Homo sapiens: one gene and its partners. The protein of the gene in region 1 interacts with the protein of each later gene in a biochemical or structural test. Each region holds a gene or a part of one and is shown in the gene's direction. Other genes may lie near its edges. The genes, in order: MAPT, CASP3, PPP5C, LRRK2, AKT1, TUBB3 and EP300.

Region 1 (2,640 bases):
TCCTGGCCAGGCGCAGTGGCTCACGCCTGTAATGGCAGCACTCTGAGAGGCTGAGGCGGGCAGATTGCTTGCGTCCAGGAGTTCAAGACCAGCCTGGGCAACATAGCAAAACCCCGTTTCTATTAAAAATACAAAAAATTAGCCAGGTGTGGTGGCATGCACCTGTAATCCCAGCTACTCGGGAGGCTGAGGTGGGAGAATCACCTGAGCCTGGGAGGTCAAGGCTGCAGTGAGGTGAGATTGTGCCACCGCACTCTAGCCTGGGCGATAGAGCAAGACCCTGTCTCAAAAACAAACAAAAAACAGTCCCTGGCACTCTGGGCCAGGCCTGGCAGGGCAGTTGGCAGGGCTGGTCTTTCTCTGGCACTTCATCTCACCCTCCCTCCCTTCCTCTTCTTGCAGATTGAAACCCACAAGCTGACCTTCCGCGAGAACGCCAAAGCCAAGACAGACCACGGGGCGGAGATCGTGTACAAGTCGCCAGTGGTGTCTGGGGACACGTCTCCACGGCATCTCAGCAATGTCTCCTCCACCGGCAGCATCGACATGGTAGACTCGCCCCAGCTCGCCACGCTAGCTGACGAGGTGTCTGCCTCCCTGGCCAAGCAGGGTTTGTGATCAGGCCCCTGGGGCGGTCAATAATTGTGGAGAGGAGAGAATGAGAGAGTGTGGAAAAAAAAAGAATAATGACCCGGCCCCCGCCCTCTGCCCCCAGCTGCTCCTCGCAGTTCGGTTAATTGGTTAATCACTTAACCTGCTTTTGTCACTCGGCTTTGGCTCGGGACTTCAAAATCAGTGATGGGAGTAAGAGCAAATTTCATCTTTCCAAATTGATGGGTGGGCTAGTAATAAAATATTTAAAAAAAAACATTCAAAAACATGGCCACATCCAACATTTCCTCAGGCAATTCCTTTTGATTCTTTTTTCTTCCCCCTCCATGTAGAAGAGGGAGAAGGAGAGGCTCTGAAAGCTGCTTCTGGGGGATTTCAAGGGACTGGGGGTGCCAACCACCTCTGGCCCTGTTGTGGGGGTGTCACAGAGGCAGTGGCAGCAACAAAGGATTTGAAACTTGGTGTGTTCGTGGAGCCACAGGCAGACGATGTCAACCTTGTGTGAGTGTGACGGGGGTTGGGGTGGGGCGGGAGGCCACGGGGGAGGCCGAGGCAGGGGCTGGGCAGAGGGGAGAGGAAGCACAAGAAGTGGGAGTGGGAGAGGAAGCCACGTGCTGGAGAGTAGACATCCCCCTCCTTGCCGCTGGGAGAGCCAAGGCCTATGCCACCTGCAGCGTCTGAGCGGCCGCCTGTCCTTGGTGGCCGGGGGTGGGGGCCTGCTGTGGGTCAGTGTGCCACCCTCTGCAGGGCAGCCTGTGGGAGAAGGGACAGCGGGTAAAAAGAGAAGGCAAGCTGGCAGGAGGGTGGCACTTCGTGGATGACCTCCTTAGAAAAGACTGACCTTGATGTCTTGAGAGCGCTGGCCTCTTCCTCCCTCCCTGCAGGGTAGGGGGCCTGAGTTGAGGGGCTTCCCTCTGCTCCACAGAAACCCTGTTTTATTGAGTTCTGAAGGTTGGAACTGCTGCCATGATTTTGGCCACTTTGCAGACCTGGGACTTTAGGGCTAACCAGTTCTCTTTGTAAGGACTTGTGCCTCTTGGGAGACGTCCACCCGTTTCCAAGCCTGGGCCACTGGCATCTCTGGAGTGTGTGGGGGTCTGGGAGGCAGGTCCCGAGCCCCCTGTCCTTCCCACGGCCACTGCAGTCACCCCGTCTGCGCCGCTGTGCTGTTGTCTGCCGTGAGAGCCCAATCACTGCCTATACCCCTCATCACACGTCACAATGTCCCGAATTCCCAGCCTCACCACCCCTTCTCAGTAATGACCCTGGTTGGTTGCAGGAGGTACCTACTCCATACTGAGGGTGAAATTAAGGGAAGGCAAAGTCCAGGCACAAGAGTGGGACCCCAGCCTCTCACTCTCAGTTCCACTCATCCAACTGGGACCCTCACCACGAATCTCATGATCTGATTCGGTTCCCTGTCTCCTCCTCCCGTCACAGATGTGAGCCAGGGCACTGCTCAGCTGTGACCCTAGGTGTTTCTGCCTTGTTGACATGGAGAGAGCCCTTTCCCCTGAGAAGGCCTGGCCCCTTCCTGTGCTGAGCCCACAGCAGCAGGCTGGGTGTCTTGGTTGTCAGTGGTGGCACCAGGATGGAAGGGCAAGGCACCCAGGGCAGGCCCACAGTCCCGCTGTCCCCCACTTGCACCCTAGCTTGTAGCTGCCAACCTCCCAGACAGCCCAGCCCGCTGCTCAGCTCCACATGCATAGTATCAGCCCTCCACACCCGACAAAGGGGAACACACCCCCTTGGAAATGGTTCTTTTCCCCCAGTCCCAGCTGGAAGCCATGCTGTCTGTTCTGCTGGAGCAGCTGAACATATACATAGATGTTGCCCTGCCCTCCCCATCTGCACCCTGTTGAGTTGTAGTTGGATTTGTCTGTTTATGCTTGGATTCACCAGAGTGACTATGATAGTGAAAAGAAAAAAAAAAAAAAAAAAGGACGCATGTATCTTGAAATGCTTGTAAAGAGGTTTCTAACCCACCCTCACGAGGTGTCTCTCACCCCCACACTGGGACTCGTGTGG
Region 2 (3,500 bases), on another chromosome or scaffold:
TAGTGGAGAGTGCTCTGTACTGTCTTCCTGGTCACGTGGCCCTTGCCAGAGGAAAGGAAAGGATGGTTTGTTTGTATAGTACAATGGAACTTATTTCAATGTATTCTGTATTTGATTTTACATTCCTGTTCTCATATTTTTACCTTAATTACATAACAAATATTAAAAGATTGACTTCACCAGGCCCAGTTACAATCGCCAGTTTGATAATTCTTATACGTACTCAAATGAATTCAGAGACCAGATGGGAAAAGATTTTGATAAAACCTCTGGTACATCACAACTGAAGTCTTTTCTTGTCCAAACTATTGTGAAACAGATGTTCTTTCTGTTTCATTTGCTAAATCTGGAAACGTGACTGCTTTTGAGACTTTGTCCTCTCTGACAGGTAATAAATATAATCCTGATATTTTTCAAGTTGTTTGACAGAAGTGTAATCTCCCCAGAAGTCCTGCTGGACAGGCTTCACTTTTCCTTTGGAGGAACACAGAGATACAGGGAATATGTTTTAATGACATATACCTAACGCTGAACATGAAACCAGTTATTTTACTTTTATTATTATTATTTTTAGAAACAGCCTTGCTGTGTCACCCAAGCTCAAGTGCAGTGGTGCGATCATAGCTCACTGCAGCCTCCAATTCCTATGCTCAAGTAATCCTCTTGCCTCAGCCTCCTGAGTAGCTGGGACTACAGGTGTGTGCCACCATGCCAGGCTACTTGTTTTTACTTTGTTATAGAGATGGGGTCTCTCTGTGTTGCCCAGACTGGTCTTGAACACATGATCTCAACCATTCCTCCCACCTTGGCCTCCCAAAGTGCTGGGATTACAGGCGCGAGCCACTGTGTCTGGCCTATTTCACTTTAGAAGTAAATTGAATGCCACATGCGAAGTTTGTTAAATTTTTTTAAAAAAGGAAAGAAAACACAAAAGTAAACTACCTAGTCGCATCAGAAATGCCATAGTCATTTTTGCCATTTTTTCATTCATTAGAATTCAGTGCATTATGTTATTTTGTTATCTCTGCAGTAACTTTCTATCATGTTATTTATTTTCTTTGTCTTATTTAAAGCTTCTGAGATTATGGATTTTTGTTTCCTTCCCTGAAGTTAAGTGTTATCATTCCTATATAGTACTAAGCTGTCTACAGAATAGTGGGAGTCTGCCCTCTTGAGTTGGGAAGATCCTAGTTTGAATCTTGGCTGTGCGACTTTAAAGTTCATTAACTTCTCTTAGCCTCAGTCACCTGAACTCTGCAGTGGGGATCCTTATGCCTCAGAGTGTCATTGGGAGGACTCACGAAAATACGCTTGTACTTTGAGTTCAGTACCTAGCCTGTATGAGCCAGCATTAAGAGGGACAGTCATCACGCAGCGCTTTGCACACAGCTCTCACGCCACATCCTTTGGCTACTGTTTTGGTAAATCTTTACTAGTAAATGTTTCTTAAAAGCATTTACATTCATGGACATGATTCAGAAACTAACAGTTGTTTTTTAGGTCTCACTTTGAGATTTAAAAACCCTTAGGGCAGAGACCAGATTTTATTTCTTACCTCAGAGTTTCCCTGTAGGACAGGAACCAGCAACAGCCTAATGAGCTGATTAAGAATTTTAGAGATTTAAAATTTAAATTAGGATTGCCAGTTTTAGAGACTGGCACATAAATGTTTTCATTTAAGGCAGTGACTGTTTCCTTTAGGATATGATTTTTTATCTTTCTAAGATGAGATCACCATCCTCAGAATAATTTGTACCCCGCTGGGCACTAGCTAATGGAGGTGATGTCATGCTAAGCAGCACTTCAGTGAGTTTTGCGGGAACCAAAGCTCTGCTCCCAGGAGTGTGGATTTGGTGCTTTCATGTGGAAAAAGCGGATGATGACAAGTAGAGAGCAAATGTGCGCATGTCTGATGCTGTAAGGATTTCCTTTACCATCATATAAATTTTTAAAGTATATCAAAATAAACTGATAACTGAGAAAATATATGTTGTTCAGATACTAATAATGAAGTTAATGAAGTCCACTATAGTATTTGTCCCTGAGAAATCTTTATCAAATATTTTAAATCCTATTGTAAAATAATGTATTTTTTCTTTCAGTTTTAGAGACTGGCAATCCTAATTTAACATCTCCTTTTGAATTCCCCACCACAGGCACACTTTCACACATTCACTCTTTAATAACAGGTTGTTTCAAATTGTTAATACTTTATAGCTTAATATAGAAATTTCACTTTAGAAATTAATTTTTATTTCTCTGCCTTAATGCTATAGATGTTGTAGTCTGCTTTACTTCAGTATTGTAATGAGTAGTTGGCTAACCACCATGTAAATAGGGAGAACATTCTAGTTTTTTACTTGTGTAGGAAAACACAGCTTGAAATGTCTAAGTATCTATTTTAGAGTGAAGTAAATTTATACTGACAATATTTTTTTGTGTTTGAAGACCTGACTGTTACAGCGTTGGTGGCAAGTGTTAAGGGATCCAGGAACTAGACAAGTGATTCTGAGACCTGAGTTCCAGGTTTCTAAGTAATATCAGTTGGTCTACTGAGAACTTTGCCATAAACATATGTGTTCAGAAATTTCCTTTCTTAGCAGCAGCATCCTGAATTGAACAGAATTACACACACATCAGCCCAGTAAGAAACAATTCATGTTAAGTCCATTGCTATGCCAGGATAAATCTTTTAAATCACAATTATTTTTCCTATTTATATTTTGTCAAATAAGAATGTTCTAAAAACCAAAATTTCTGTTTTCTTTTTTTTTTTTTTTTTTTTTTGAGACGGAGTCTCACTCTGTCGCCCAGGCTGGAGTGCAGTGGCGCGATCTCGGCTCACGGCAAGCTCCACCTCCCGGGTTCACGCCATTCTCCTGCCTCAGCCTCCTGAGTAGCTGGGACTACAGGCACCCACCACCACGCCTGGCTAATTTTTTATATTTTTAGTAGAGACGGGGTTTCACCGTGTTAGCCAGGATGGTCTTGATCTCCCGAACTTGTGATCCGCCCGCCTCGGCCTCCCAAAGTGCTGGGATTACAGGCAAAATTTCTGTTTTCATTTAAGGCAGTGACTATTTCCCTTAGGATGTGATTTTTTTATCCTTCTAAGATGAGATCACCATCCTCAGAATAATTTGTACCCTGCTGGGCACTAGCTAATGGAGGTGATGTCATGCTAAGCAGCACTTCAGTGAGTTTTGCGGGAACCAAAGCTCTGCTCCCAGGAGTGTGGATTTGGTGCTTTCATGTGGAAAAAGCGGATGATGACAAGTAGAGAGCAAATGTGCGCATGTCTGATGCTGTAAGGATTTCATCTACCATCATATAAATTTTTAGAAGTATATCAAAATAAACTGATAACTGAGGCAATGTATGTTGTTCAGATACTAATAATGAAGTTAATGAAGTCCACTATAGTATTTGTATAGTATTTGTATATTACAGTACTCTGAAAAGCTGGTCACTATTTAAAGTTTCCATTACCAGTCACAAGG
Region 3 (3,500 bases), on another chromosome or scaffold:
GGTTGGGACAGGCAGGAGGGGCAGGCTGAAGAGATGTCTCTGGGCTCAGGGTAGCCCTCAGCTTCCCCATCTGTGAACAGGGAGACTGGGCGTCACCCAGCCCAGGGCCTGTCCTCGCAGGGTTGGAGCACTGCCTCATGCCTCTTCTTCTGTCTCCGCAGCCAAGGACTACGAGAACGCCATCAAGTTCTACAGCCAGGCCATCGAGCTGAACCCCAGCAATGCCATCTACTATGGCAACCGCAGCCTGGCCTACCTGCGCACTGAGTGCTATGGCTACGCGCTGGGAGACGCCACGCGGGCCATTGAGCTGGACAAGAAGTACATCAAGGGTTATTACCGCCGGGCTGCCAGCAACATGGCACTGGGCAAGTTCCGGGCCGCGCTGCGAGACTACGAGACGGTGAGCTGGGGAGTGGGCCAGGCCTGGCACCTGAGCCAGGCAGATACTGAGGGCTGGGCTGGCGGGGACGGGTGTGAGGAGCCATTCACTCCTCTACTTACCACTCAGCCAGCCAGCAAGTGCCTGTGGGGCCTTGGGCCCAGGCCAGAGTACCCAGGCCACAGCTCTGCTCAGCCATCTCACATTTTGTGACCCTGAGCCAGTTACCCCGCCTCGCCACACCTTCCTTTCCATATCCGTGAAATGAGGAGAACAAGAGGATCAGCCTCAAGGGTAGCGGTGAGGAAAAGTGAGCTTTTGCCTTTCACACGAGTAGACCAGTACTTGGCCCGGGGTCAGTGTCCTGTGATGGTTCACCTGATGGTTACTGTCATTGTTAGTGCTGGTGCTGGACAGGAGCCACACAGCCTCTCTTCTTCTGGTGGAGCTTGTCTTTCAGGGGCAGGCAGAAAACCCACCACTGAATAGGTTAGCAGAATAATTGCAGGTGAGGATCTGCACTTTGAAGAAAAGAGGAAGGGCAGTCGGGCACAGTGGCTCACGGCAGTAATCCCAGCACTTTGGGAGGCCAGGGTGAGAGGATTGCTTGAGCCCAGGAGTTTAAGACAAGCCTGGGCCACATAGGGAGGAGACCTCATCTCTACAAAAAATACAAAAATTAGCCAAGCGTGGTGGCACGCACCTTTAGTCCCAGCTACTCAGGAGGCTGAGGCAAGAGGATTACTTGAGCTCAGGAGCTCAAGGCCGCAGTGAGCTATGCTCTCACCACTCCACTCCAGCCTGGGCGACACAGTGAGACCCTGTCTCAAAAAAAAAAACAAGAAGGGTGATATGCTGCCAGGGACAGCAGACAGGATATGTGTGATATGCTGATGAGGGAGGGGACCTAGGGCACAGTGAGAATTCGCTAGTGCCCTCACCCACCTAATGAAAATCCTGACGGTATGAGGCTCTGCAGAGCGAGCACACACCTTCACACCAGGTGTGCTCTGCATCTTCCTTCAGGGAGGCTGGCTGAATCATTACAGCACCCTGGGACGTGGGAACTGGGATTACTCCCCTTGCACAGATGAGGAAACAGTCCCTAAGGGGTGAAGTCACCTGCCCAGTGACCCCCACCTGGTTAGTAGCAGAGCTGGGATTTGAACCCAGGAGGCCTGGCCTCAGGGCCTTATCTCTCCCACCTCAGAGTTCGCTCCCTGAGACGGGGCCGTGCGCTTGTCCTGCGCATGGGGATGGTGCAGCAGGGGGCTTGGTCAGTGTGTGTCGAGAGGATTGTTATCCTGCCCCCCGACACAGACACACTTCACTCCCTCCTTCCCTTGCAACCATCACACTCGGAGCTGCTTGTGTCGTGTAGGGAGGGGCAACCAGGGAGCTGGGAGCCGCGAGTCTGCAGTTGGTCGCGGGGCTGAGAAGCACGAGTCTGCAGTCGGTGGAGCCAGCTCAGACACTGTCCTGGCTGTTGGCCGCTGGCCTGGGGTGGAGGGTGGACTTCAGGCCAGGTGAAGGCTTGAGCTAAGCATGAGTCCAGGGGACACATGTTAGGATGGGGGCAGAGATGTGGCGGGGGGTTAGGGCGACACCTAGAAGGGTGGGGGCAGGGGCAGCAGAGCAGAGGCCTTCCCAGCTTGGGCTCCCAAGCCATTCTTGGCCAAGCCCCTCCCTCATTGTCTCTTCCTGTCCTAATCTAGAAAATGGTGACAAGAGGAGTGGCCGCCTCCGGATGGCTGTGGCTGTGATGACATGGTTGAGTAAAGGTCACGAGCTGCAGGGCTCAGTAATGAGTAACCAAGGACAGTCGGTGTTGGGTTGGGGCAGGGCTCCAGGTGGGAAGGGGGCCTGGGGAGACAGTGGGGCAGAAGAGAGGAGCCCCAAGGACAGGTTTAGGGCAGGGTCTTCATCTCGTGTGGGGCTGCAGGAGCATCTTTCCCCAGGGTAAGGAGCAGGGGCTGCAGGCAGGGTCTTCGTCAAGTGTGGGGCTGCAAGAGTGTCTTTCCCCAGGGTAAGGAGCAGGCTTTTCAAGACTCTGGCCCAGTCTAGGGCCCAACCCCGCATACTCCCAACCCCGCATACTCCCTGAGGCTGGGCTGGTTGGCTTCAGCCATCTTGTGGGTGTGCCACGTCTGAGCTGTGTCCCAGGCCTGGCGGATGGCAGGGAGGGTTGAGGGGGTGGGGAATTCAGAGTCTTTTACAGAATACCCAGCACCTAAATTGTCATGGCCCATTTCCCCATGGGGGCTCTCCCAGCAGCATTGGGGACCCCCACATGAACATGAGGGCTTACCTGTCATCAGGCCATCCATATGCCTGCAGGCCTTCAGCCTTGCTCCTTTCTGCGCAGTTCTTCAGGCTCCATGTGCCCTGGGGCAGTTCATCTTCCCAAGACTCTACCTCCTGCTTGCTGGATGCTAGAGTTTCCTCCTAGACCAGAAGCTCGCCAGGGAAGCAGAGCAAAGACGTGACCTTGGCCTTGGGCGGGGGAGCTCCCCTTAGCCTCGGTTTCCTCAGCGGTCTGCTCACTCTGGGCCCAGCACTGCTGGGAGCCCTTTGTGCACCTGAATTCAGCCTGAATTCAGACTGAGGCCTAGAGAGGAGATGTCCCTCCTCCAAGGTCACCCAGCAGGGAAGTGGCAGAGCTGAGACTTGAACCCCTAGTCCATGCTTGTAACTGTTTCTGGGCCACAATCAGTTGAATAGCTTCAGCACTTTTGTCTTCATCAAACAGAGAATTAAAAACGGTTCATTGTTTGGAGGAAGTGTGTATAAATATTGTTTTGTGGAAATGACTTTTCATTTACACAAGTACAGATGAGTGATGGATGTGATATAAAAATCCCTATTTTACATGTGGGCTGCAGGCAGAGAGTCTGCGGTCACCAGTGCAGGGGCTAGATGGGGCAGGCTCTGGGCTCAGGACGCCTAGGTTCACAGCCAGCTCAGATTGGGTAGCAGCTGCATGGCTCCTAGTGCCTTTTTTCTCAGCCTTAGTGTCCTCATCTGTTAAAGGAGGTGAGAATATAGGAATAACAACCAAAGTGTTTTTTCTTTGTTTTTGTTTTTTGTTTTTTGTTTGAGAGAGAGTCTTGCTCTGTCA
Region 4 (3,500 bases), on another chromosome or scaffold:
GTAAAACTTTTGACTCTAACTTTTTTTTTTCTTTATCCTGGGCACATGTATGCTATTTTTACTGAATTAGATAGCTTTGGTATTTATAAAAATTGTATCCCTCTTATTCATAATTTCCTGAAAATGAAGGGCTATTGTTATCTTTGATAATTTATGCTTCAAGTAAAGAAGTGTGGCTCTTTGGCATCTGTATTTAGCAAAATTTGCTTTGTATAATTTTAATGATGCATAATGGTGGTGGTGTCATGTTTTAATAATTTAAAATGTTGTTTATGTTATCATATGTAAATAGCATTTATCTCTTAATTGGTGGTAAAATTATTAATGTATACTTTATGGTTCTAGGGAGGTAATGGTAAAAGAAAACAAGGAATCAAAACACAAAATGTCTTATTCTGGGAGAGTGAAAACCCTCTGCCTTCAGAAGAACACTGCTCTTTGGATAGGAACTGGAGGAGGCCATATTTTACTCCTGGATCTTTCAACTCGTCGACTTATACGTGTAATTTACAACTTTTGTAATTCGGTCAGAGTCATGATGACAGCACAGCTAGGCAAGTTTCTTTCCTTTAGATATTTTTCATATTCTCTAAGTCTTATAAAATATGCCTTTATTTTACGTTTACATTTTCTCTGAACTTTCCAGTGTCATATGGATGGTCTTGGAGGGTCACACAGTGAAACATAAGACTGGTATAAATTGTGAATAGGGTCATTACAGAAGTGGAGGGAGTAAATGCTCTCAGTCCCACAAGAGAAGCAGATTACTGCAGCTGAACACTCAGTTTGGGTCTTACTTGCTTTTTTCCTTTTTACCTAAGGCAAAAATGGGAAATACATGGTATTGAATATATTTTACTTTTTGAGCAAAGAAAATAAAGAAAATGTTTGTTTTAATCATAGTCTAGCCTCCCAGCTTGTTAAAGAATCTCATTTGGTTTTTCATTCTATAACAAATCTTTTTTCTTGCAGCAATACATGCTGAACTGCACAACCTACAAATATTGACAAATCATATTTTACTCAAACTTTGTCTTTTTTTGCTTCTATTTTTATATTTAAATATGATAAAATTGTGATAGCACATAAAATATATTTTCTGCATAAATATATTTGCGTCTTCCTTTGATAATAATTTGTTTTAGAAAATAACAATAATAGCATATATACAAAAGTTTACAAAAACGACACTATGGGGTTTAATTCTGAAAAAAACTAGAATTTATGTAACTTTAGCAAATAATGAATGTTTTGAACATGGTGAAGAAAATATATTCATTGCAAGTATATGTGAAAGAGGAACATGTGTTTTTCTAGCACCTTCACCTATTTTTCATTTATAGACTTTAGAGTTGCACAGGAGTTACAATTAGATGCTCTTAATGACTGTAAACTATTAAGATACATGTCCACACAAGCAGAGCAGTAGGTCTCTCAATAGGTTGTCTCAGTAGTCTTATTCTACCAAAGTTGTTGCATTCTCTAGTTGAATTGTATGTACTTTGGGACCCAAATAGCTTGCTTATAACTGAAGTTATAGTGGAATGTCTATGGGTTATAGTTTGATTTTAAAATAAAGATCAATTGGAGGATAGCCTACAAGGTGCTGCATGAGCTGGCTTCACTGTACCTCTCCTGCCTCCATCATCTACCACATTCCTACCAGATCTTGCTTGTCTAGATGAACATCCAGTTCTTCTCAATTACTATGCTATATTTTGCCTCAGGGATTTGCACATGCTGTTTATTTCTTTGCTTAGTTAACATAGCTTTTTTTCATGCTTATTTAACTCATATGCTTTGAAATGTTAGCTCCTGTGTCAAAACCTCTGAGAAGCCAACACTGATTAGGTCAAAGTTCCCGCTTTGGGTTCCCATAACAGCTTTCTTGCATAGTTTTGATCATGGTCATATTTTTTTTTCATTAATGCTAGTCTCTTCACTAGAATATAAACTCCAAGACGGTTGGGTTAGTGTGTTTTTGTTTACCCCTTTTTTCCCAGGATCTAGCCTAGGGCCTACATAGAAGACTTTTGATGCAAATTTGTTGAATAAATTAGTGAATGATTTGAAAAGAAAATATGATATTTTGACATAGTATCAGTATATCCATCCATCTAAGTGTCCATCTAAATACTCATATTTGTACTAAATACTCATATTTGTACCTTACCATATCCAAAGAACTTTTCACACACATTACCTCGTTTAACATTGTAACTTTGGGAAGGGTAATGTATAAATACTGAGCCTATTTTATAGAAAGGTTAAGCTGTTTTCTCAGACTCACATAATTAAGAATTGCAGCAAGGAGTGGATCACAGATTTTGTTATTTTTTAAAAAAATGCTGGTCTTTATTCAATATAATTGAAGGGTCACCTAGAAAATAGAATTGTGAATTCAGTTCCAAGGTATTTGTGTCTTAAACTATGAACAACTTTACTTTTTTTTCAGGCCAGTTTAATATATAGTTTTAACAGAAAACTTACATATTTTGTTTTTGTAAAGGAAGCCTTAAAAATGTCATGCTGGTATTGGGCTACAACCGGAAAAATACTGAAGGTACACAAAAGCAGAAAGGTAACATTTAGAAGGATACTGTTTTCCAAACAGGGCAATGATGTGAATGATGGTAACATATTATGTGTTTCATAAATTTGTAGAAAATATTACATATGGTATAATCAGGAATTTTAATTGGTAGTTTATAGTGTAAAGAACTTAGACATAAATTTTCAAAATTACAAGTGATATGAAGTGTTAAATATTTATATTTTCAGCTGAAGTAGAGGTGTCAATCACTAGCTCAACCTTAAACGAAATGTGAATATTTTTTACAACTTATCTATATCTACATAATGTCTAATTTTGAACAGTGTTTGAAAAAGCTTTTATTTCTTTTAGAATATGAAATGTTAATTTATTAAATGTTGATACTCTATTTGAAATTTAATAGTTTCTATAATGTATTATAAAACTTTTCCAAGTATAGTTTTTTATAAATAATAATTTAGTACATTAGTTATAGCTGTGTTTATATTTACATTTATCTAAGTCAACTAAAAATACATGAGCCAAACTGAAATAAAATAAGAATGTTTTATGATGGATCTTTGAAACATGATTTCATTTTTTTCTTTTTCTAGAGATACAATCTTGCTTGACCGTTTGGGACATCAATCTTCCACATGAAGTGCAAAATTTAGAAAAACACATTGAAGTGAGAAAAGAATTAGCTGAAAAAATGAGACGAACATCTGTTGAGTAAGAGAGAAATAGGAATTGTCTTTGGATAGGAAAATTATTCTCTCCTCTTGTAAATATTTATTTTAAAAATGTTCACATGGAAAGGGTACTCACATTTTTTGAAATAGCTCGTGTGTATGAAGGAATGTTATTATTTTTAATTTAAATATATGTAAAAATACTTACCAGTAAATGTGTATTTTAAAGAACTATTTAAAACACAATGTTATATTTCTTATAAATACCAGTTACT
Region 5 (3,500 bases), on another chromosome or scaffold:
CCGGGATGCTGGGACCCAGGATGAGGTGCTCTGGGCTCTCGAGAAAGGGCTGGGCCTAGGCCAGGAGTGGGTGCCGGCCGCAGGGGCACCACCTGGACTCCCTCAGGCTGGTCGCTGTCCGAGAGGGGCCGGGGAAGAGCTGCAGGCCTGGCTGCCTTCGGCAGGCTGTGACCCAGCAGGCCAAGGCCGAGTGGGCGGGGGTCGAGGGAAGCTGCCTGGGGCGCGTGGGTTACGCGGCAGACGCTCCTGAGTGTGTGGGCAGCGTGTCCAAGCCACGGATCTGGGTGCCTGGCCGGGCCCGGGTGACACGGGACCGTGTGTCCATGCGGCTCACGGAGGGTCCAGTCTCCGGACATCTGAGTCCTTGCCATGCCCTACCCCGGGCCCATGCCTGGCATAGACCCCCCAGTCCAGGCCTCAGGGCAGCCCCCTCACCACTCCTGCTGAGTTAGCCCCAGGCGTCCCGGTGGGGAGTATGGAGGCTGGTCTCTGACCCCAAGCAGGTGCCTAGGCTGGGCCTCCTTCCCACCCCCTCTCCCCGCCTTGAAGTCCTGGCACTGGCTGTCCCTGCGGGGGGGCACTGAGGCAGGGAGAGAGTGGTTCCTACCCCAGTGTGTTACTTCGCTTTGGTGAGCGACATAGAACCTCACTGCATCCCCAGCTGCTGCTCAGCCATCCAGCTGGTCCTGGGGTCCCTGCGTGAGGTGGGGGACCTCAGAGGGTACAGGCCACTCCCCTTCATCCTGGAGGAGGCCTTGGCTTTGCTGAGTAAACACCCTTGAGAAGAGGTCTGTGGGGGACTCTGAGCCCACTCCAGAGAGCAGCTGCTGCGGAGGGCCCCGCAGGGCTAATTGTTTGTGTGCAGATGGAGGCTGCTCATTACCCCGCCAGGATGAGGGGCCCAGCAGGACCCTGAGGGAGGGAGCCCGCAGACTCTCCCCTCAGCCTGTGGGAACCTTTGGGCTCCAGGCCAGGGCTGCCTGTGCCTCCTGGGCCTCAGTTTTTCCCAGGCTGTCAGGTGAGGGTCAACCCCAGGCTGCGTCTAGGTGGCTTCAGTGTGAGACCCGCGGGCCCTGGGCTGGTTAGTGCCAAGCTCTGCCTCCCCTGGGGGAGCGTTGAGGGTCTGGAACGGCCCCCGTGGGCAGGCCAGGGACAGAGATGGGGAGGCAAGTGTGCTGGCTCCTGGTGGGAGGGCTGGGCAGAGAGTGGGGGTCCCAACAGCCCTGGGCCTACCCGGGAGAGGGGCAGGAGGCACAGGCTGGTGGAGGTCATGGCATGGCTGTGGTGGAGGCCGCCAGCATCAGGGAGGTTCCTGTTTTGGGAGCTTGTTGAGTTCTCACTTCAAAAACAACAAAAGAGGAAGCCGAGGTGGCCTTGAGTGGGGGTGAGGGGTCACTGCTGGCCCCAGCCCTGGACCTTAGCCCCCACGCCTGGTGGCTCCTGAGTGGACAGCTCTTCTTCCTGTGTGTTTCTTGGTCACTGGCCCTCTCTGGGCAGGGATGCCCTGTGGGGGGCTGGACTCCGGGAAGGGAAACTGAGGCCCAGGAGAGTGGACAGAATGTGGGTGGAATGATTCCTGTGCTGGGGCCTAGACCCCCGTACACCTTCCACTCTCAGGAGAAGCCTGGCCGGGTTGCATCAGGCCGGGTTCCTAGAAGTCCTGCACGAGGCTGAGCGGAGGGAACTGGCGCGGCCCCCGCTGGCGTCCCCTCTGCCTGGGCACACCCGGCCCGGCTTGGGGCCAGCACCCTGCCCTCGGGCCCTCCCATAGCTGAGACTGGTGGCTGTGGCTGTGGCTCTGGGCCTGCTCCCCAGGCCACCCTGGGTGGGCAGCTGCCTGCTGCTTCTGTCTGCTTGGACCATTGTGCCTAGTCCCATGGCCTCAGGAGAAGGTTCCCCCAGCCCAGCGCTGGGGCCCCGGGCAGGTTGGCAGAGGGCCCTGGGGCTCCAGGCCAGGATGGGGCTGTTAGGCGAACCCTAGGCCCCTTACTTCCTCATCTCCAACGGGAGTTCCCTTCCCTGCCATGCCGCCTTTAGGTGTGTTTTCCTTGAACCTTAAGGAATGATAGGTTTGGATTTCAGAAACGTTGGAATTGAGGGGGTTGGGAGTTCATGGGTGACTCTGCTGCCAATGTTGCGGGCTTTGGGGTGGGATCCTTGGGGCGCTGTGTTTGGGCTCACACACCCCCCAGGCGGGCCCGGTGACTGCAGACCCCACCCATACCCTGTAACCTGGCGGGCCCACCTGCCCAGGCCCTCAGCTGGTTGTCCAGCTCAGGGGTGGAGACACCCCCTGGGCAGGCCTGGCGGGGAGGTGGCTGCTCCCTGGGCCTGGAGAATGCAGAGAGGCCCTTCGGCTGGCCAGGGTCTGGCTGGCCTCCCCACAGACTGGGGCCAGGGGCACAGCAGCCAGGTGTAGGGCGCGGAGACGCTGAGCTGCACAAGCTTGGTGAGGTGTGGGGTGAGGCCACGGGGGTCAGGGCCACAATGTCCCAGCAGGCCGGGGGATCAGAAGGAGCACCCTCCACAGCTGGCCGTGCTCTGGGGGCCCTCCTGCCCCAGGCGTGGCTCCAAGTTGGGGCAGAAACAAGATGGTGGGGAGATGGAAGGCCCCTCTGTGGCGGGTGCTTCCCATGGTCGGTGTGGAGGACGAGGTCCCTACTGCCTGGTTCCAGTTCCCCCAGCAATGCAGGGCACTTTTCCTGGGGTGTCAGGGATTGAGAGGCCAGCACTGGAGCCCTTCAACCGCCAGGGGCCCTGCCCAAGAGAGACGGGAGGAGGGAGGGGCTGTGGGCATGGCTGCGTGCCCCCGGCCGAGCCCCGGAAGGAGCCTGTGCCCGTGCCCACTTCCTTTCCCGAGGGCAGTGTCTACACGTGGGACACTGTGGCCAGCCCTCCCTCGCAGCAGGCACTGTGTGCTGTCCCCATGCCCAGCTTCCTCCCACGCAGGGAGCGAGGGTGAGGGCCCTGGGAACCCACTGGGTGGAGGGCACTTGGCAAAGCCTGCTGCAAGTTATGGGGAGAGTGGGCGGGGGCAGAGTAGGAGGCGCCAGGGAGGGGCTGCAGCCTCATCTGCAGGGGTCCTGAGTAGGCAGGGTGGGCCATGACATGGGTGGGGCTTGTTTGGGGCAGACCAAAAATGAGGTGGGGGACAGGGACAGGGACAGGGTCTTGGGATGTGCTGGGCTCTGCGATGGATGGGTGTGTGGCAGGTGGGGTGCCTTTGCCGGCCCGAGGGGTGGGTGACGGGCAGTGCCTGTGGGGGAGGACATCCAGGCCCAGGTGGTCTGTCAGGGGCAGCACCAGGGAGGCCCAGTACCCCACCCAGTAGAGCCCCAGGAGAATGGAAAGCTGAGACCCAGGTGCTTCCCTGGAGTGGCAGGAAGAGAGGCCCCAGCGCCTCCGGCTGTGCCTCAGCGAGGTGGACGGGGTCATGGTGGTGCCGCCTGCCCGCACCATGTTCCTCCCGGGGTGTGTGTGTCGGGCTGAGGCCTGCTCCA
Region 6 (3,500 bases), on another chromosome or scaffold:
CTGCGGAGCCGCGGGCCGGGCGGGAACCGCATTCGGGTCCTGGAGGGGCTTGGAGGCCCCAGTCTCGCAGCCCCTTCATCGGGGACCCCCGCTCCCACCTGCCTTGGCCACTGCCCTCAAAGCCCGGCCCCGCTTTCCCCAGGACCCCAAGCGCTGCGCGAGGTCAGCACCAAGGACAGCGCCCGGGCCGAGCGCCTGGCCTCGAACGCCGGGTTCTGCTTTGTGTTTCCAGGTTTTTGTTTTTGGTTATGAGAGGAGGCCTGGCTCTGTCGCCCGGGCTGGCGTCCAGAGGCGCGATCTCGGCTCACTGCAGCCTCGGCCTCCCGAGTAGCTGGGACCGCAGGCGCTCACCACCACGCCTGGCCACAATTTTCCTTTTTTCTTATTTTCTTTTAGATGGAGTTTGGCTCTTGTTGCCCAGGCTGGAGTGCAGTGGCGCGATCTCGGCTCATTGCAACCTCCACTTCCTGGGTTCAAGCTATTCTCCTGCCTCAGCCTCCTGAGTAGCTGGGATTACAGGCGCCCGCCACCACACCTGGCTTATTTTGTACTTTTACTAGAGATGGGGTTTCTCCATCTTGGTCAGGCTGGTCTCAAACTCCTGACCTCAGGTGATTCACCTGCCTCAGCCTCCCAAAGTGCTGGGATTGCAGGCATGAGCCACCACGCCGGGCCGATTTCCTTTTCTGTAGTGATGTTAACAATTTAGTTTATAAAATTATATTTTATTGTTTATTAAATATGTAACATAGGCCAGGTGCGGTGGCTCACACCTGTAATCCCAGCACTTTGGGAGGCCGAGGTGGGTGGATCACCTGAGGTCAGCACTTCAGGGCCAGCCTGGGCAACATGGCAAGACTCCGTGCCTACAAAAAATAAAAAACAAAAAAAATTAGCTGGACATGGAGGCACGCCGGCCTGTGGTCCCAGCTACTTGGGAGACAGAGGTGGGAGGATCACCTGGGGGAGGTGGGCAGAGGTTAAAGTGAGCTGAGGTCATGCCCCTGCATTCTAGCCTGGGCAATAGAGCAAGACCCTATCTAAAAAAAAAAAAGGAACAATATATTTTATTACTTTATCTCAAATTATAATTTTATTAATTTTAACTACAAAAGCAATTAATATATTCTCCTGGTTAAAAAAAACCTTAAATATTGCAGATAAACCTGGTGCCCATCTAGCCACCTCTCTCTATCCAAGTGGGAACAAATTTCTTTTTCTATCCTTCTGGTCCATTTTTTTTAAGTGACCTGTGCATATGGTTTTAAAACTTTAAATAGTATCTAAAACATTTGAACAAAATGAAGCCAACATGTGCTGAATGTTTTCATGTCAAGCTTTGTGCTAAGGCCTGGATGTGGGCACCATTCACACGTTCATCTCACAGATGAGAAAACAGGTCCTGCGAGGCACGCGCCTGGCCCACAGCTGTGCTCGTGCTGGGTCTTGAATCCACTCTGCTCCATTGCTCCTGCTGCCCTGTGCCTCGCTCTGCAGAGGACTTCCCATAGATGTGTTACTCTCTCCACCCCTCCTTTACAGGGGCTGGTGGTTGTGGGTTCCCTGGAACCATAAATTTGGGGTGTCCCAGTGCTTTGGGGAGCAAGGTCCCCGACTCAAGTGGACTGCCAGCAACTAAATTAATGGGGGATCCTCAAAGAGAGTGTTAGGGAGGCAAGCAGTAGGTGGGAAGCTTGGACAAGCCCCAAATGCCTCAGGGACCTTTCTGTATTTTTTTTTTGAGACAGGCTCTTACTCTGTCGCCTGGACTGGCATGATCTAGGCTCACTGCAACCTCCACCCCCCTGGCTCAAGTGATCCTCCCACCTCAGCCTCCTGAGTAGCTGGGGCTATAGGCATGCGTCACCATGCCCAACTAATTTTTTTGTTTTTTGGTAGAGACAGGGTTTCACCATGTTGCCCAGGCTGGTCTTGAACTCCTGGACTCAAGTGATCCACCTCTCTTGGCCTCCCAAACTGCTGGGATTATAAATATGAGCCACCATGGCCAGCTGATTTTTTTGTTTGTTTGTTTGAGATGGAGTCTCACTCTGTCACTCAGGCTGGAGTGCAGTGGAGTGATCTCGGCTCACTGCAACCTCCACCTCCTGGGTTCAAGCAATTCTCCTGCCTTAGCCTCCTGAGTAGCTGGGATTACAGGCACCCGTCACCACACTGGCTAATTTTTTTTTTTTTTTTTTGAGGCGGAGTCTCTATCTGTTGCCCAGGCTGGAGCACGGTGGCACAATCTCGGTTCACTGCAAGCTCCGCCTCCCAGGTTCACGCCATTCTCCTGAGTCAGCCTCCCAAGTAGCTGGGACTACAGGTGCCCGCCACCGCGCCTGGCTAATTTTTTGTATTTTTAGTAGAGACAGGGTTTCACTGTGCCAGCCAGGATGGTCTCGATCTCCTGACCTCATGATCCGCCCACCTCGGCCTCCCAAAGTGCTAGGACCACAGACAGGCGTGAGCCACTGCGTCTGGCCTAATTTTTGTATTTTTAGTAGAGATGGGGTTTCACCATGTTGGTCAGGCTGGTCTCGAACTACTGACCTCGTGATCCACCCGCCTTGGCCTCCCAAAGTGCTGGGATTGCAGGCGTGAGCCACCGCGCCCGGCCTTTTTTTTTTTTTTTTTTAAGATAGGGTTTCACTCTTGTCCCACAGGCTGGTGTGCAGTGGCTTGATCTCAGCTCACTGCAACCTCTGCCCCCTGGGTTCAAGCGATTCTCGTGTCTCAGACTCTGAAACAACTGAAATTACAGGTGCGCGCTACCACGCCCGGCTAATTTTTGTATTTTTAGTAGGGACAGGGTTTTGCCCTGTTGTCCAGGTTGGTCCTGAACTCCTGACTTCAAGTGATCTGCCTGCCTCAGCCTCCCAAAGTGCTGGGATTATAGGCATGAGCCACCACACCCAGCCTGAATCATTTTTGTAATTTAAAAATTTAACGCAAAAAGAATAAAACTTAGCAATAACAAAAATGCACAAAAGATGGAAAGAAATCCACCCCTGACCTTTGTGGAGAGATGACCTCTGATAACAGTCTCAGGGTGAACGGGCACCTCTGATAACAGTCTCAGGGTGAACGGGCATCCCGAGACACTGTTAGCAGAGGTGGTCCATGTCCATGCTGTCCGCGTTACAATAATTACACTATGTTTATTCTTAAGGTTTTAAAAACATTTATTTTTAACAAATTTTCTTTGAAAAGCTACCGTGTGCACGTGAGAAAATCTCAACAAGACCACAGGGCACCCGTGAGAAGAAGCTCCTCCCAGTCTGGGGCCCCTCCCCAGGCACAGCCTTCCACACATCTACCAGAGGCACCCACGCATAGAGAAGCACCCACAAGCAGTTTTCTTTCTTTCTTTTATTTGAGACGGTGTTTCCTTCTGTTGCCCAGGCTTGAGTGCAGTGGCATGACATAAGCTCACTGCAACCTCCACCTCCCGAGTTCGTGTGATTCTCCGCCTCAGCCTCCCAAGCAGCTGGGATTAC
Region 7 (3,500 bases), on another chromosome or scaffold:
AGATATCCACCCACCTCGGCCTCCCAAAATGCTGAAATTACAGGTGTGACCCACTGCGCCCAGCCTTTAAATATTTATCTTAAAAAATAGTATCAAGATGTTCCTTTAAATAATTCATCAAGTTTCCTTAAAATGACAAGAGCTGCCTCATGGAGCAATAATAGATACATTCGTATCTGCATCATATGGGGCAAATGTGGGCAGTAGGATTGCGGTTTTATTTTTAAACCATTTTCATTTGATTAGTCTCAAATACTTAAAAATCAGAAGATTTTGCATTTAAAAAGTCTGAATTTCTGGCTGCTTTAAAAAAAAAAGGACATGTCTGGCAGACTTGACCCCCTTTCTCCTACAGTGACACCTGTCTATAGCTGCACTCATGGCTGACTCTAGAAGAGCTGTGTTTTCTCTCCACTTCAGTCCTCACCATTCTCTATTGTTTTGGGTACTTAAAACAGTTTTACTTGGTATTAGCTGCTTGGCACTTGCCATTTAGCTTGGAACACCTATCCATATTGTTGACTTGAAAAAAAAGTTACTCATATCTTAGGTGAAAACATTGTTTTGTAGATAGTGTGCGTGAATACAGATATGTGTGGGGAGGAAGAGGAAAGGTTTATCTCAAGGTCATTTGTTGGATCCTGATTCATTTTTCTATTGATTTTTAATTTTTATGTAATGAGCATGGATTATGCATATACTTCTTATAAAGCTTGCAGAGTTACAGATAAAAGTTTATATGAATAAATGTTGAGCATTTCCTCTCTCAGTTTTGCTCATTTACTAAAGGTTGAAATTTGTCTGAAGGGATGGACATCTCCTTAGAAGAGCAGCAGGTCTTCCTCTCCTATGCCTGAGGCTTGAATGTACAGCCCTTGATGGAGGGTATGGCCAGGGTGGAGCCAGGTCACTACAGACATCTGTCCTTTCCGAGGGTGCTGTAAAAATATTTTCTCTGTGCACTATGTTGAAAGTACTACACTAGAGCATGTGCAGATAATCCAGGAAAAAGACCTTAGAATTTATGTATTTATATTTTAGGTTTTTTTTGAGACGGAGTCTCGCTCTGTCGCCCAGGCTGGAGTGCAGTGGCACGATCTCAGCTTACTGCAAGCTCCACCTCCCGGGGTCATGCCCCGGGTTCACGCCATTCTCCTGCCTCAGCCTCCCGAGTAGCTGGGACTACAGGCGCCTGCCACCACGCCCGGCTATTTTTTTGTATTTTTAGTAGAGACGGGTTTCACCGTGCTATCTAGGATGGTCTCGATCTCCTGACCTCGTGATCCGCCCGCCTCGGCCTCCCAAAGTGCTGGGATTACAGGATATTTTATTTTTTTAAGAATTATTTCTGTTTTTGTATTTAAGAGGTACATGATATGTAGTGTGGTATAATATGCATATTATTTAAAATCAATGTTCACAGTTTATGTGCATAAAAACGTTGTGCTACATGATCAAATTCGGCCACCATTAGACATGATTCATAGCTATTATCCATGGAGATACTCTGTTGCATGCCAACCAGACTCAGACTTTGTTAAACAATAACATATTAAATGCTATGATGGCCTCAATTTTTTTTTTTTTTTTTGAGACAGAGTCTTGCTCCATCGCCCAGGCTGGAGTGCAGTCGTGTGATCTTGGCTCACTGCAACCTCCGCCTTCCAGGTTCATGCGATTCTCCTGCCTCAGCCTCCTGAGTAGCTGGGATTACAGGTGCCTGCCACCACGCCTGGCTAATTTTTTTGTATTTTTAGTAGAGACAGGGTTTCGCCATGTTGGCTAGGCTGGTTTTGAACTCCTGACCTCAAGTGATCCACCCACCTCAGCCTCCCAAAGTGCCAGGATTACAGGCGTGAGCCACTGTGCCTGGCCTATAATGGCTTCAATAGCTTATTTTTCTATCAACATTGAAAGCACCCGGGCTCATAAAGGAATACCAACAAATCCACTTGGAGGCATTTTTCTGTATTCCAGAAATAACATTTTCTTCAAGCTTCTGTCTAGTTCAGAGCTTTATTTTGTGATTCATACTCAATTTTCAAAGGTATTATTAAAAATATTTTGTGGGGTTTGTGTGTGCAGTGAGTTTTTGTTTGGTTAAGGGAAGATGGTGCAAAGATACTTATTTCTCTTTTTTACTCTAGATGGCCCTCTACCTGACCCAAGTATGATCCGTGGCAGTGTGCCAAACCAGATGATGCCTCGAATAACTCCACAATCTGGTAAATAGTGAAAAAAATTTTTTTATTTTAAAAGAATCCCCGGTGTACTGCAAGATAATACTTGCTACCTGAACACCCGCTTTATGCCAACAGCAAGTGTCATGATTACCTGCCCATAGAGGAAGAGGGGGTGAAGAGCAGGTTGGCTGGCAGATCACAGGGCAGGTGACATTAAATGATCAAGTATCCATTAAAAAACAACTGCAGGCTGGGCATGGTGGCTCACGCTTGTAATCCCAGCACTTTGGGAGGCCGAGGCTGGTGTACCACCTGAGGTCAAAGTACGAGACCAGCCTGGCCAATGTGGTGAAACCCTGTCTCTACTAAAAATACAAAAAAATTAGCCGGTTGTAGTGGCACGGGCCTGTAATCCCATTTACTCTGGAGGCTGAGGCTGGAGAATCACTTGAACCCAGGAGGCGGAGTTTGCAGTGAGGCGAGATCGCGCCACTGGACCCCAGCCTGAGTGACAGCAAGACTTCGTCTCAAAAAAAAAAAAAAAAGCAGATTGTAAAATTTGTAAAATTCAGTTTGGAGATCCTGTTAGTTGATAATGTCTGTTTACTGCTACTGTGAATGAGACAGATTTATTTATACTTAGAAGGTTGAAAGCCAGTTTATTAGTCCTGATAGAATCAGGGCCAGGTGCGGTGGCTCACGCCTGTAATCCCAGCACTTTGGGAGGCTGAGGCGGGCAGATCACAAGGTCAGGAGATAGAGACCATCCTGGCTAACACAGTGAAACCCCCGTCTCTACTAAAAATACAAAAAATTAGCTGGGTGTGGTGGCGGACGCCTGTAGTCCCAGCTACTCAGGAGGCTGAGGCAGGAGAATGGTGTGAACCCAGGTGGCAGAGCTTGCAGTGAGCGGAGATTGCGCCACTGCACTCCAGCCTGGGCGACAGAGCAAGACTCCGTCTCAAAAAAAAAAAAAGATACAGAATCAGACATAAGAATTCTATCTTTTATTATTCAATTTCACAAAGGCATTCAGATCTAACATTTTGCTCATATTCACAGGTTTGAATCAATTTGGCCAGATGAGCATGGCCCAGCCCCCTATTGTACCCCGGCAAACCCCTCCTCTTCAGCACCATGGACAGTTGGCTCAACCTGGAGCTCTCAACCCGGTTAGTTTGACGTCTTTGGTAATCTCTTTGGCCTTTACCTGGTATTTTGAAAATCCTGTTTGTTCCTACTTTATAAATTCTCACAGTCATTTAAACAGACCATAACTCCTAGTTCTTCTGTAATTCTTCTGTATTTAACTCTACT

Evidence for each region.
Region 2: of the proteins of MAPT (region 1) and CASP3, one has a biochemical effect on the other in vitro, tested with the Homo sapiens proteins (3 studies listed by BioGRID).
Region 3: of the proteins of MAPT (region 1) and PPP5C, one has a biochemical effect on the other in vitro, tested with the Homo sapiens proteins (3 studies listed by BioGRID).
Region 4: of the proteins of MAPT (region 1) and LRRK2, one has a biochemical effect on the other in vitro, tested with the Homo sapiens proteins (3 studies listed by BioGRID and IntAct).
Region 5: of the proteins of MAPT (region 1) and AKT1, one has a biochemical effect on the other in vitro, tested with the Homo sapiens proteins (3 studies listed by BioGRID and IntAct).
Region 6: the proteins of MAPT (region 1) and TUBB3 form a complex in vitro, tested with the Homo sapiens proteins (3 studies listed by BioGRID, with this or other methods).
Region 7: of the proteins of MAPT (region 1) and EP300, one has a biochemical effect on the other in vitro, tested with the Homo sapiens proteins (3 studies listed by BioGRID).

The regions. Positions count from the first base shown.
Region 1 is NC_000017.11:46,023,554-46,026,193, forward strand, and holds part of MAPT (microtubule-associated protein tau), read left to right. Parts: intron 1-402; coding exon 403-618; 3' UTR 619-1,563; coding exon of another isoform or gene 1,564-1,635; 3' UTR 1,636-2,640. UniProt on the Homo sapiens protein: Promotes microtubule assembly and stability, and might be involved in the establishment and maintenance of neuronal polarity.
Region 2 is NC_000004.12:184,642,948-184,646,447, reverse strand, and holds part of CASP3 (caspase-3 isoform a preproprotein), read left to right. Parts: intron 1-1,725; exon of another isoform or gene 1,726-1,905; coding exon of another isoform or gene 1,906-1,917; intron 1,918-3,500. UniProt on the Homo sapiens protein: Thiol protease that acts as a major effector caspase involved in the execution phase of apoptosis. Following cleavage and activation by initiator caspases (CASP8, CASP9 and/or CASP10), mediates execution of apoptosis by catalyzing cleavage of many proteins.
Region 3 is NC_000019.10:46,353,587-46,357,086, forward strand, and holds part of PPP5C (serine/threonine-protein phosphatase 5), read left to right. Parts: intron 1-161; coding exon 162-403; intron 404-3,500. UniProt on the Homo sapiens protein: Serine/threonine-protein phosphatase that dephosphorylates a myriad of proteins involved in different signaling pathways including the kinases CSNK1E, ASK1/MAP3K5, PRKDC and RAF1, the nuclear receptors NR3C1, PPARG, ESR1 and ESR2, SMAD proteins and TAU/MAPT.
Region 4 is NC_000012.12:40,364,497-40,367,996, forward strand, and holds part of LRRK2 (leucine-rich repeat serine/threonine-protein kinase 2), read left to right. Parts: intron 1-345; coding exon 346-554; coding exon of another isoform or gene 555-637; exon of another isoform or gene 638-2,509; coding exon 2,510-2,581; exon of another isoform or gene 2,582-3,147; coding exon 3,148-3,269; 3' UTR 3,270-3,500. UniProt on the Homo sapiens protein: Serine/threonine-protein kinase which phosphorylates a broad range of proteins involved in multiple processes such as neuronal plasticity, innate immunity, autophagy, and vesicle trafficking.
Region 5 is NC_000014.9:104,785,749-104,789,248, reverse strand, and holds part of AKT1 (RAC-alpha serine/threonine-protein kinase), read left to right. Parts: intron 1-3,500. UniProt on the Homo sapiens protein: AKT1 is one of 3 closely related serine/threonine-protein kinases (AKT1, AKT2 and AKT3) called the AKT kinase, and which regulate many processes including metabolism, proliferation, cell survival, growth and angiogenesis.
Region 6 is NC_000016.10:89,926,342-89,929,841, forward strand, and holds part of TUBB3 (tubulin beta-3 chain), read left to right. Parts: intron 1-3,500. UniProt on the Homo sapiens protein: Tubulin is the major constituent of microtubules, protein filaments consisting of alpha- and beta-tubulin heterodimers. Microtubules grow by the addition of GTP-tubulin dimers to the microtubule end, where a stabilizing cap forms.
Region 7 is NC_000022.11:41,144,592-41,148,091, forward strand, and holds part of EP300 (histone acetyltransferase p300), read left to right. Parts: intron 1-2,147; coding exon 2,148-2,225; intron 2,226-3,245; coding exon 3,246-3,355; intron 3,356-3,500. UniProt on the Homo sapiens protein: Functions as a histone acetyltransferase and regulates transcription via chromatin remodeling. Acetylates all four core histones in nucleosomes. Histone acetylation gives an epigenetic tag for transcriptional activation.